Homo sapiens: one gene and its partners. The protein of the gene in region 2 interacts with the protein of the main gene of each other region in a pairwise test. Each region holds a gene or a part of one and is shown on either strand. Other genes may lie near its edges. The genes, in order: KDELR2, MAP2K3 and CCND2.

Region 1 (3,432 bases), on a different chromosome or scaffold from region 2:
TGAGCCACTGTGCCCAGCCTAATTTTTGTATTTTTATTAGAGATGGTGTTTCACCATGTTGGCTAGGCTGGTCTTGAACTCCTGACCTCAGGAGATCCGCCCACCTCTGCCTCCCACAGTGCCGGAAGTATAGGCGTGAGCTACCTCACCCTGCCATCCTTTGTGTTTTTTTTTTTTTTTATCTTTTTAAAGAGACAGGGTCTCACTCTGTTACTCAGGCTGCAAGAATGCAGTGGTGTGATCCTTCCTCACTGCAGTCCCAAACTCCTGGGCTCAAGTGATCCTCCCTGCTCATCCTCCTGAGTAGCTGGGACTACAGGTGCATGCCACCACACCTGGTTCTTTTTAAAATTTTTTTTTTATAGAGATGGGGTCGCTCTCACTTTTTTTGCCCAGGCTGGTCTTGAACTCCTAGCTTCAAGGGATCCTCCCACCCTGGCCTGCCAAAGTACTGGGATTACAGGCATGAGCCACTGCATCCGGCCTTTATGTTATAGTACCCAGAATTTCATAGGCCTCCCTACATAAGCTATATTTTACTATATATTGATTAGGGTGAAAGTCATAATAACAAAAAGCCACTATGAATTTAGTGGCACTTTCAATCAAATTTGTATTTTTAAAATACAATTGCTTATTTCCTATACCTTACTATGTAGAATCTTGTGTGTGGGAGACTTCTAGGAATGGGAAGAAGGAAGCTAAGTTTGTCAATATCAGTAACCTTTTGTTTTCTTTTCTTCTCTTTGAAATTCTAGTACTCAAGGGAAAGAAGCTCAGTTTGCCAGCATAAGTGCCAAAGACCATCACCAGCATCTGTCCTTCAGGGTGCTCGGACAGAATTCTTACCACAGCAAAGGCATAAGATGCTTGATACGGAAAATCAGAAACTTAACTCTTTTGTTGCAGATAGTCATCAGTGGCTCTGTAAAAACGCAGAGGAAAAGAGCCAGAAGGTTTCTGTTTAATGCATCTTGCCTTATCTTTTTTTATTACTGTGTACAAAGATTTTTTTACACAAAGAAACTTAATGCTGTATTAATAAATTCAGTGTGTAGCTTCAATTGGGATAGTTCCAAAAGTGAAGATTTTGTGAGGAATAAGTGCAAATTTTTTTTTTATTTTAAAAAATTCTTTGAAACTCTTAAGTCTTTGTGTCTGCAATGAAATTGTACTCCTTGACAGTTGATAGATTATATATTCTTCCATCCCTCAAACTTGCATTCCACTATATTTATTTTTTGGCAAAAGATGAGCTGTATTTGTTTGAAATCTGAGACACTATGTTCAATTGGATGTATCTGTTCAAATTTATTCCCACGTGACGTGGAAGTCCTTCGTTGGATGTCACAACACTACATTTAAGGTTGGTAAGGATGACTTGGAGGTCCATGGTTTTCATTACCAACATTTTAAGATTCTGAATGTCGATGGAGTCTCACTGAAGAGTCACCAAAGGTGCCTGCCCTCCTCCCCTGCTGGGAAGTGTCAGTTGGAGACTGTCCCAAGGGTGCTGAAGAATCCAGTGGCAGGGGTTCTGGCTGCTTTCCATCTGAGTGTGGGATGGGAGGGGTGTTCATGATCATTTGGATATAGCAATCTACTCTGAGAAATGGAACACAAGGAGTTACCTATCACTTTCACTTATAATTCCAAAAGATGACTACAACCATGTCCATGCTCAGATTCAAACAGTTTTCCATATCACTTTTGGGTGGTAAGATGATTTAATTACAGTTTTTTTTTTAATTGGCAGCACCACTAACCATTCCTTACATTCTTTTTTGTATGTGTGGTTTTCTTTTTATTTAACCCGCAGCCGACATCGTAGTTTCTTGTTTTGTTTTGTTTTACAGAGCTGTTGCATGACTTATGTTACCATCCTAAAAAACACTATATTAAACATGGAATAAATTGTCTTTTTATGAATTAGGCTTTTTGAACATCCTGTGTTGGGATTTTTTTGTTTTTCAATTGGCAACAAAAGCTCTGTAGGGCTGCAGACATTTAAAGTTCACATAATCATCTGTAAGACATTATGTATTTTGTGGAAATACTAGAATTTTTTTCCTGATTTTGCCATTATATGGATTTGCTATTTTTTGATTAATGCAAAAGTATATGACTTTGTTTTTTATGTGATACACCATAAATATTAAAGTGTTGAATACTAACAGTGCTGACTACAAGAAGGATGTAGTATTTTGGCTTTCTGCATTACAACGTCTTCTGGAGGAAGGGAGCAGGATGGGTTTCATTTGTATCTAGTGTGTGTCTTAACATCTTTCTAAATCGGCAGTGTAACTGCATAGTTTAACTTCCTGTCTGTCTCCCTCATTTTACTCTTCCCTCCTTGTCTTATGTTTTGGCTTTTGTGTATCAGAGCATCTTTCTTTGCAGCATCCTAGTCTTGCTTCAGTTTCTGTGGTCTCTTTTCATCCTGCTTGAAGATTCGGAGTGTGGAAGGAGGCTAGGAAGTCTGGTGCAGTAGGTGAGCAGACCTCTTGCTGCCCAGCCCAGGGTGGGTGGGGCGCACACCTGTCTTTGTGCATGCAAATCTGATACACCTGGCGCATCCTCTGGAGAGCACAACGCATGGAAAGGTCTGGAAGCTCTGTGTAGCCATTCCTTCTGCAGTCATCCTACCCAAGTAAAAGTAACCTTGGCTATGTTACCACCGTTTTGGTCACCCAGGAGGACATCTTAGCAAGGGTGCCTGCGAGGGAGTGTGGGACTGGGCCTCATCCTCGCCGGCGTTGGAAACCAAGGCCTTGTATGCCACGCCTTATGAAGCACTGTTTCACAGTTACTTTCACTTCCCGAATAAAGGTTACCAGGTAATTAATATTTTTATTGAGGTGTTTGTGTGTTTTTCAATGTAAGCATCATGAGAAATAAAGCAAAGTTCAGATATTTGCCCAGTAATGGATATAGGAAAAGCTGCTTTCCAGCCAGGCCTGGTGGCTCATGCCTATAATCACAGTACTTTGGGAGGCTAAGGCAGGAGGATCACTTAAGGCCAGGAGTTTCAGACCAGCCTGGGCAACCTAGCAAGACCACATCTCATTTAAAAAACTAGTAAAAATGAAAACTTAAAAATAATAAAGGCTTCTATCCATTGGCTCCTTAACAGAGAGAGACCAATCTATTCCCCTGTCCAGTTCAATCACAAAGAAACTTTGAAGAAGTTTCCCTGTTGCCTTATGCCCTGGCTAAGAGAAGAGCAGGTGGAGAAGTGGTTTTAATGGAGATCATAGTGATTTATGGGAACCCTTAAGTAAGAAAAGCACATGCTTTGGGCCCAGGCATGTGTTGAGGCTTGGTTCCCTCACTTGTACTCCCTGGCCCTGGACTTCACGTGAGCCTCGTTGCCTCCAGTTACATAGGTAAACTGCCAGGGATTTCTGTGTGGTTTAAATGAGCTGCTGTTGG
Region 2 (3,650 bases):
GCAAGGACCTGCTCCCTCTTCCCCAGTGAACTCCTGAGGACCCTCCTGACAGGAAGGTTGGGAGATGCGCAGGGGGCACCCGCAGGCTGCAGGGGCCCCATCGGCTAGGGGCTGGCACAGAGGATGCTGAGCTCTTCATGAGTGACGAGTGAGGACAGGTGAAGCAGCCCTGACCTTGCCCGATGGCTGGACTCAGATGCCCTGACCCTGCCACAGCTCTTTGAGGGGCAAGTGACCAGTATGAGCCCAGCATCGCCTAGGCTCCCGGCCTCCCTGCTCACCCACACCCACCCGGCTTGGCGGAAGGCAGCTCCACTCTTCCAGCCTCAGTCACTCTCTCAGCACACACCCCATCCTGTCCACAAACCTAGAACCCAGAATCCAGATCTCATATCTCCATGGCCGTTGCCTGCTTGGGCACCCCACGCCCCATATGCCATTCCCACGCCCTGTATGCCATGGGGATGCGAATGGTCACACAGACAGAACTGAGTGCAGCTGAATGCCAGGCCCCAGGCCATGTCGTTTACCTTCCGTGTCAACTTTAGGAGGCACCCACAACCACCGGCCTCATTTGACTGACAAGGAAACTGAGGCACTGAGCAGGACAGTAACAGCCAAGAGACGGGGGAGCCTCCTGCCAGTATGCCAGGTGTCCCCAGCACCTGGCGTACTGGAGGGACTGAGTGACAGTGGGTTGCAGGCGACTGATGGGTGGGAGGTGGAGATCCCCAGCTGCATCATGCAAGGACGCACCTCTCTGAATAGTGCCCCGTAGAAGGTGACAGTGTAGAAACAGTCGACCGTGCGCATGTTGATGTCCAGGTCCATGAGCAGCCGCTTCTGCTCCTGTGAGTTCACGGTGGCCCGGATCCGCTGCAGGGAAGGACTGCCATTCAGAGGTTGCCGTGGCAGAGGCCAACACCCACACTCATGACAGGAGGGCCAGGAGCTCAGGGGGCCACTGCCCAGTGTGCCCCAAAAAGCCTAGCCTCGGTACTGATCACTGAGAGGGATAGGCAGGGCCCCATGGCAGAGCTCAGCCCGCCTCCTCCAGGGAGCCCTCCCAGCTGCCTCCAGGCCCTGCTCACCTTCACGGCCATGATGGTGCCGCTCTGGGCGTGCCGCACCTTCTCTACCACCCCATAGGCTCCACGGCCCAGTTCTGAGATGGTCACCAAGTCATCAGCCTCCACCTCAAAGTTCTTGAAGGATGGAAAAGAGAGTCAGTGGCCAGCAAGCTGGAAGCCAGTCCTCACCCCATGCCCAGTGGAGATACCTGGGCAGCATGAAGAGGACCAGCTGATTAGATCTGGGCTCAAACCTCATATCCACCGCTCCCTGCTGTGTGACCCTCAGCAAGTCACTTAACCTCTCTGAGCCTCACGATGCCCTCTATAAAACAGGCACAGTGCCAACACCCCAAGGCTGCTATGGAGTGTGACTGAGACAAAATGCCCCGCCAGCAGGTACAGCTCTGAGAAAGAGGTGCCCTGTCCCTCTTTTCCCGACCCCACTCAGCTGGCTAGAATGAGTCACTCATTCAGAAACTGTTTACCAAGCATCCACAATGTGTTTTAGGCACTGGGGACACAGTGACAACAAAACAAAAGTATTGCCTTCACAGATGTTTCCCTCTCTTGGGAGGGACACAAAAAGGAGTAAGCAAGTAGATGAACAGGACAGCAGATGGTGAGTGTCAGGGAGTGCGACAGCCTGGAGGGAGTATCGTCAAGGACAGGCCTAGGGAATGGGGTTTATTTTTTTTAGACAGAGTGTCACTCTCGTCACCCAGGCTGGAATGCAATGGGGTAATCTTGGCTCACTGCAACCTCCACCTCCTGGGTTCAAGCGATTCTCCTGTCTCAGCCTCCTGAATAGCTGGGATTATAGGCGCCTGCCACCACACCGGGCTAATTTTTGTATTTTAGTAGAGACAGGGTTTCACCACGTTAGCTAGGCTGGTCTTGAACTCCTGACCTCAGGTGATCTACCCGCCTCAGCCTCCCAAAGTGCTGGGCTTACAGGCGTGAGCCACCGTGCCCAGCTCTTTTTTTTTTTTTTTTTTGAAACGGGGTCTCACTCCGTCACCCAAGCTGGAGGGCAGTGGTACGATCATGGCTCACTGCAACATCCACCTCCTGGGTTCAAGCAATCCTCCTACCTCATACTCTCAAGTAGCTGGGGCCACAGGCACGCACCACCACGCTGACTAATTTTCTGTATTTTTGTACAGACAGGGTTTCGCCATGTTGCCCAGGCCTGGTCCCGAGCTCCGAGGCTCAAGTGATCCTCCTGCCACGGCCTCCCAAAGTGTGGGGATTACAGGTGTGAGCCACTGCACCTGGCCTGGGAGTAGGGTTTCTGTTGGGAGGAACGGGGCATAGCACGGTCCCTGAGCCAGGATTCTGAATGGCTAGTGCCCTTCCGAGGCTTCTGGAAGCATAAAATGCAGGTTGCCCAGGTGCTGGCCTGAGGGAGTGATCCAGCGGGTCCAGGGCGGCCTAGGAGCCTGCATGTTCAATACTCTCCCCTAGGGCTAGGATGAGGTGCAGGGCCTTGCTCTCAGCTCAGAAACCTTCCTACCAGCTCTGGGCTCGCCAAGCTCCAGTCAGGCAGCCGATGGTCCTCATTCCCACCAGGAGGGTCAAAGAGTGGGTGGCCCAGGGCCACACAGCCAGCAGCGCAGGACGAGGCTCTTCTCCAGAGCCTGACCCTCTCTGACCCCTCAGTCACCTCCCCCCAAAGTGGCCCTGCAGGGTCAGCTCTACCCGCTCGTCAGGTGAAGTGAGAGGCCCTGCAGGGGTGGCGGCTGGCACCTACTCTGTCTCCAATGGTGATGAAGGTCCGGGAGTCCAGGTTCCGGGGGGGTCTGTGGAGAAAGAAGACTCCGTGAGCTTCAGAGAGAACCACACCCTTCCCCAAGTGCAGCAGTAGATGGGCCAGTGTGGGGCCTGGCGTGGGGACGAGGTGCCTCCTGCCCCGGAGGCGCCTTCTCCGGCCACCTCCTCTCACTGGCTGCTGAGCATCTACACTGAGCTGGGCACGGCCTCATCGAGCCTCCAAGACAGGGTGAGAAGTGAGCAGAGCAGAGCAAATGGTGCTGCATGAACCCCCAGCAGCCGTCACCTGGCTGTATGCACAGCAGGGGCTGCCCAGGACAGGACGAGGTAAAGCAGGGCTGGCCCCACCTGCCTCTCACTCCTTCCATTGAGCCCTGTTCGGGAAGCCTCTCCAGGGTGAGCCAGGGAGAAACTGAGGCAGACTCACGTGGGGTTGGGTGCGGGTGGCTTGGACATGCAGGATATCCGTAGATCCTTCTTCCTCTTGGATTTTCCTAGAATGGAGAGAAGGTGAGGCGTCTGGCCTATCCCTTGACATCAATGTCCCCTGCACTCCCATGAGCCATCAGGCCCTGGCCCACAAGGGTGCCAGCCTCTGCCATCACCCATGCCGGGAGCCCCCTCTCTCCAAGCCAGGCCGTTAGGCCTTCAAAGGGGGAAGGAGGCCCACCAGCCCTGCAGGGGAGCAGAGCAGGACAGACCCAGGCCTGGAGGCTGGACTCCAGGGCCTTATCTCAGCCCTGCCCACTGGGCACATCTTGAGTACCTCCCTGGGCCTCAGTTTCCCCATCTGTGAGGTGTCCTCAC
Region 3 (3,650 bases), on a different chromosome or scaffold from region 2:
AAAAAAAAAAAAACGGAAAAGGGAACAAAATGCCACACCCTGATGTTCAGCCATCTATCTTTGCACCAGCAATAACTTTTCTTTCCATGTCCAAAGGAGAAGTATAGAGATGGGAATTAAGATCCTTCTGTGCCATCAGAATGGTAACAGATTTTAGTTTACAGGCTTGTCTGAGGAATGTTGTGATGGGAATGTCAGCAGGAAGGGGTGTCTCTTGAGTCCTGGTAGGAACACCAGAACTGTGTACCAAAGAACGCCAGATACCAGAAGCGAAGAGTAACCCAGACTGGGGGCAGGAAGGGAGGGGGCAAAAGAGAAGAGGGGAGGAGTATTCAGCATGACTTGCATAAACCATCCCATCTATCGCTCGGGAACAATTTTTCAAAGTGCTTTTCGAATGGAATGGTTTATAACAATGCTAAACTGTGAACCAGACATGCCAATCAGCACCAAAAATTAGTTTTTTTCTAAGAAGAAATGCCAAGGCCACATTACCCTTTTAAATACAATAACAGAAAAGACTCCATTCTGGATCCCACCCTTGGTCTCCATCTGCCTCCGTTTCATGTGAGTTTTGGTTATGGCCCATAGCTACATTTCCCCATTAGATAGCAATATGGTGGTGTCTGCAATGAACTGCATTTGGAAGAAGAAGCAGGATGTCACAGAACATGAAACCCAGGAGCCAATCACCTGTGTCCAACTGGCAAAATAAAACATCTTTTTTTAGGTAGCAGCTACTGTAGACAGCAAGAGGACATTAATGTAGAGATCCAACTACACTCCTGACTTAGTAACAGGTGGCTGAGAGCAAAGGTGCTTCTCCATCCCAAATGGTTCAATCATGTTGAGAGATTGTTTTGTACTCCTTCCCCATCATGTCCCTCCTTATTTCAATTCCTTCTTGAGTTCATTGCTTTGCAATCTAATCATGCCATAAATGGCGTACACAGTTCCTTGAAATTATACTACAAGGGGGTGTATGTGCTAGCTCATAACATGAAAAAAAAAAGTCTCCTCTAATTTGTTCCCATATTGCAGGCATACATATTCTCTAACTACTCTGCAGGTTTTCCTGTAAGCATTTTACTATTACTTTTACATAATCAAACAATAACTGTTCGCATATACAAGGGATTCCCTTATGCTGTACTTCAAATAGGCACCAAATGCTTTTTATTATTCCGTTTTCGTAGGACCTTTTTCTCTCACTTCTAAAAGATCTTTAAATATGATCTAGGTGGGGGCAGAATTTTTTTTTTAAGTTTCACCCTAAAACACAAAGAACAAAAACAACCAGAAAGAAGAAGAGACCAGATTATGGACGCGTCTCTCTCTTTCGGCCCAACTGGCATCCTCACAGGTCGATATCCCGCACGTCTGTAGGGGTGCTGGCTTGGTCCAGTTCATCCTCCGACTTGGATCCGTCACGTTGGTCCTGACGGTACTGCTGCAGGCTATTGAGGAGCACCGCCTCAATCTGCTCCTGGCAAGCTTTGAGACAATCCTAGAACAATGGTCCAGACCAGAGTTGTTAGTAAGAGGAACAGGACATAGAGCATCCTACGGAGAAAACATGCGTAATTTAGCTTGCATAAGTCTGTGCTAGTTTCCAGTAGAAATAAATGTGAAGTAAAGGAGGGATGTTCTTAAAGTGCCAAGGAACCTCACTACTCCAGGTGGGGTCCATGGGCTGGCAGCATCAGCATCACCTGCGAGCTTGTTGGAACCGCAGAATCTCAGTCAACCCAGGCCGAGCTATTCAGAACCTGCCTTTTAGTGGAGCCCAGGTGATTGGCATTCTGAGAAGCACTGGCCTAAATGATGGTCACTTATGGATGCCTGGTAATCAAGGGGCCGACCAGATGCTTTCTGCCTGGGGAAGCTGGGAAGTGGCAGAGAAAAGGGGAAGGCTACTAGAAGTGCTATGACATTAGCAAACTCAGCCCGAGAACTAGATAAGAAGGAAGCCAATGAACCAACGTACTGACCCTCACATAAACTGTAAATACTTTTTCTCACTCTGTCCCCCAGGCTGGAGTGCACTGGCACAATCTCGGCTCACTGCAACCTCCACCTTCCGGGTTCAAGCGATTCTCCTGCCTCAGCCTCCCAAGTAGCTGGGACTACAGGCACCCGCCACCGCGCCTGGCTAATTTTTGTATTTTTAGTACAGACAGGGTTTCACCATATTGGCCAGGCTGGCCTCGAACTCCTGACCTTGTGATCCGCCCGCATCGGCCTCCCAAAGTGCTGGGATTACAGGCATGAGCCACCGCGCCTCACTGTAAATACTTAAAAAAAAAAATCCCCAACTTTTTCTGCTTCTTTACCATTTCCTTAACTCTCATAAAGATATAATGCAGAATGTCTACAACATTCTGGAACCTTGAGCCATCCAATTTGGGAATAAGCAAGAATATGCAGCCTTGCTTTAGTATCAGTCTATATTGTAGGGGTAATTGACAGTGTGTCTGCCCCAGGCAGGAGCTTCTCTTAGGCAGATGACATGCAATGCAATGACAAGTCATGGGTATCACTAGACAGGGACCGTTGCTGGTGCTAGTAAGAGGGTGCAAACCGTAGACTTGCTTCTAACGGGCATTTTCTAGCCTCTCTCCTCTGCAAAGGTGCCTTTGTGCACTCTCTTAAGAAGCACATACATAAGGCAAATATGTTAAATTGAACCTCCCTGTGTCTTTTCATAGTTTAATATAAACTTCCCTTTTGTTTCTTTTACTGTGCAATTCTCCCCACCCAGAGGTTTCTATTTTGCCAAGCCCAAAAGCATTCTCTTTATTTCCCAAAGATCTAAAACACAGCTGGCCAGGCATATTGGCTCATGCCTGTAATCCCAGCACTCTGGGAGGCTGAGGCGGGAAGCTGAAACCAGGAGTTCGATACCAGCCTGGACAACACAGCAAGCTCCCGATCTTTAAAAACAAACATATAAATAAACAAAATAAAGCTGGAACTAACCACTAAGGAACAAAATTTCCATACCCCTAAATTTTCCTTTCCTATCTCTCATCTATCCCACATTTCAAACTACAGCTTTCAATGAAAACTAAGATTAGGAACAACCACAGACTAAAGGCCAAAGGCAGAGACGAAATATCACCTGGAACAATGAAATGAGGAAGGGTGGTATCTGCTGCCCACCCACTATACTTGCAGGTGGCACCTAAGTTATTTAACTTTTCTGATCTCAGTTTCCCCACAAAATAATCAGAGTAAAGGGCAACTGAGATGATACTGATATATGTGCAGTGCTAAGTGGAGCTCAATAAATGATCGTGATTATGTATAACAATAAACTGGTCCTGGAACCTAAAGAATTCAGATTTCTTTGAAATGAGGTATAGATTCGCATTTAGTCAAGACTAATGAAGCGTGTGTCAAGATCCTGACAATCTTTAGTCAAGACTGTGTGTCTGGGAAGAGTGCTGAACATGACAGACGTGACGCAGCAGCAGGAGTCTCCGTGCCACCCTGAACGAGGCTGAAATGGAGTCGGGCGCTGGCCTCTGGGACTTGCTAACACCTCTCAGACGTTCCTGTGGCATCTCCTGGTTACATCCCTTACCCTTACCCTGTCCGACCTGTTGAGCTGAATGAATGACGATAAATCACATGGGGCTCACCTGCCT

What was found.
Region 1: the proteins of MAP2K3 (region 2) and KDELR2 come close enough for resonance energy transfer, tested with the Homo sapiens proteins (one large-scale study listed by BioGRID).
Region 3: the proteins of MAP2K3 (region 2) and CCND2 come close enough for resonance energy transfer, tested with the Homo sapiens proteins (one large-scale study listed by BioGRID).

The regions. Positions count from the first base shown.
Region 1 is NC_000007.14:6,460,502-6,463,933, reverse strand, and holds the end of KDELR2 (ER lumen protein-retaining receptor 2), read left to right. Parts: intron 1-758; coding exon 759-793; coding exon of another isoform or gene 794-968; 3' UTR 969-2,845; downstream 2,846-3,432. UniProt on the Homo sapiens protein: Membrane receptor that binds the K-D-E-L sequence motif in the C-terminal part of endoplasmic reticulum resident proteins and maintains their localization in that compartment by participating to their vesicle-mediated recycling back from the Golgi.
Region 2 is NC_000017.11:21,298,100-21,301,749, reverse strand, and holds part of MAP2K3 (dual specificity mitogen-activated protein kinase kinase 3), read right to left. Parts: intron 3,338-3,650; coding exon 3,271-3,337; intron 2,873-3,270; coding exon 2,824-2,872; intron 1,206-2,823; coding exon 1,092-1,205; intron 877-1,091; coding exon 757-876; intron 1-756. UniProt on the Homo sapiens protein: Dual specificity kinase. Is activated by cytokines and environmental stress in vivo. Catalyzes the concomitant phosphorylation of a threonine and a tyrosine residue in the MAP kinase p38.
Region 3 is NC_000012.12:4,297,717-4,301,366, reverse strand, and holds part of CCND2 (G1/S-specific cyclin-D2), read right to left. Parts: intron 1,508-3,650; coding exon 1,358-1,507; 3' UTR 1-1,357. UniProt on the Homo sapiens protein: Regulatory component of the cyclin D2-CDK4 (DC) complex that phosphorylates and inhibits members of the retinoblastoma (RB) protein family including RB1 and regulates the cell-cycle during G(1)/S transition.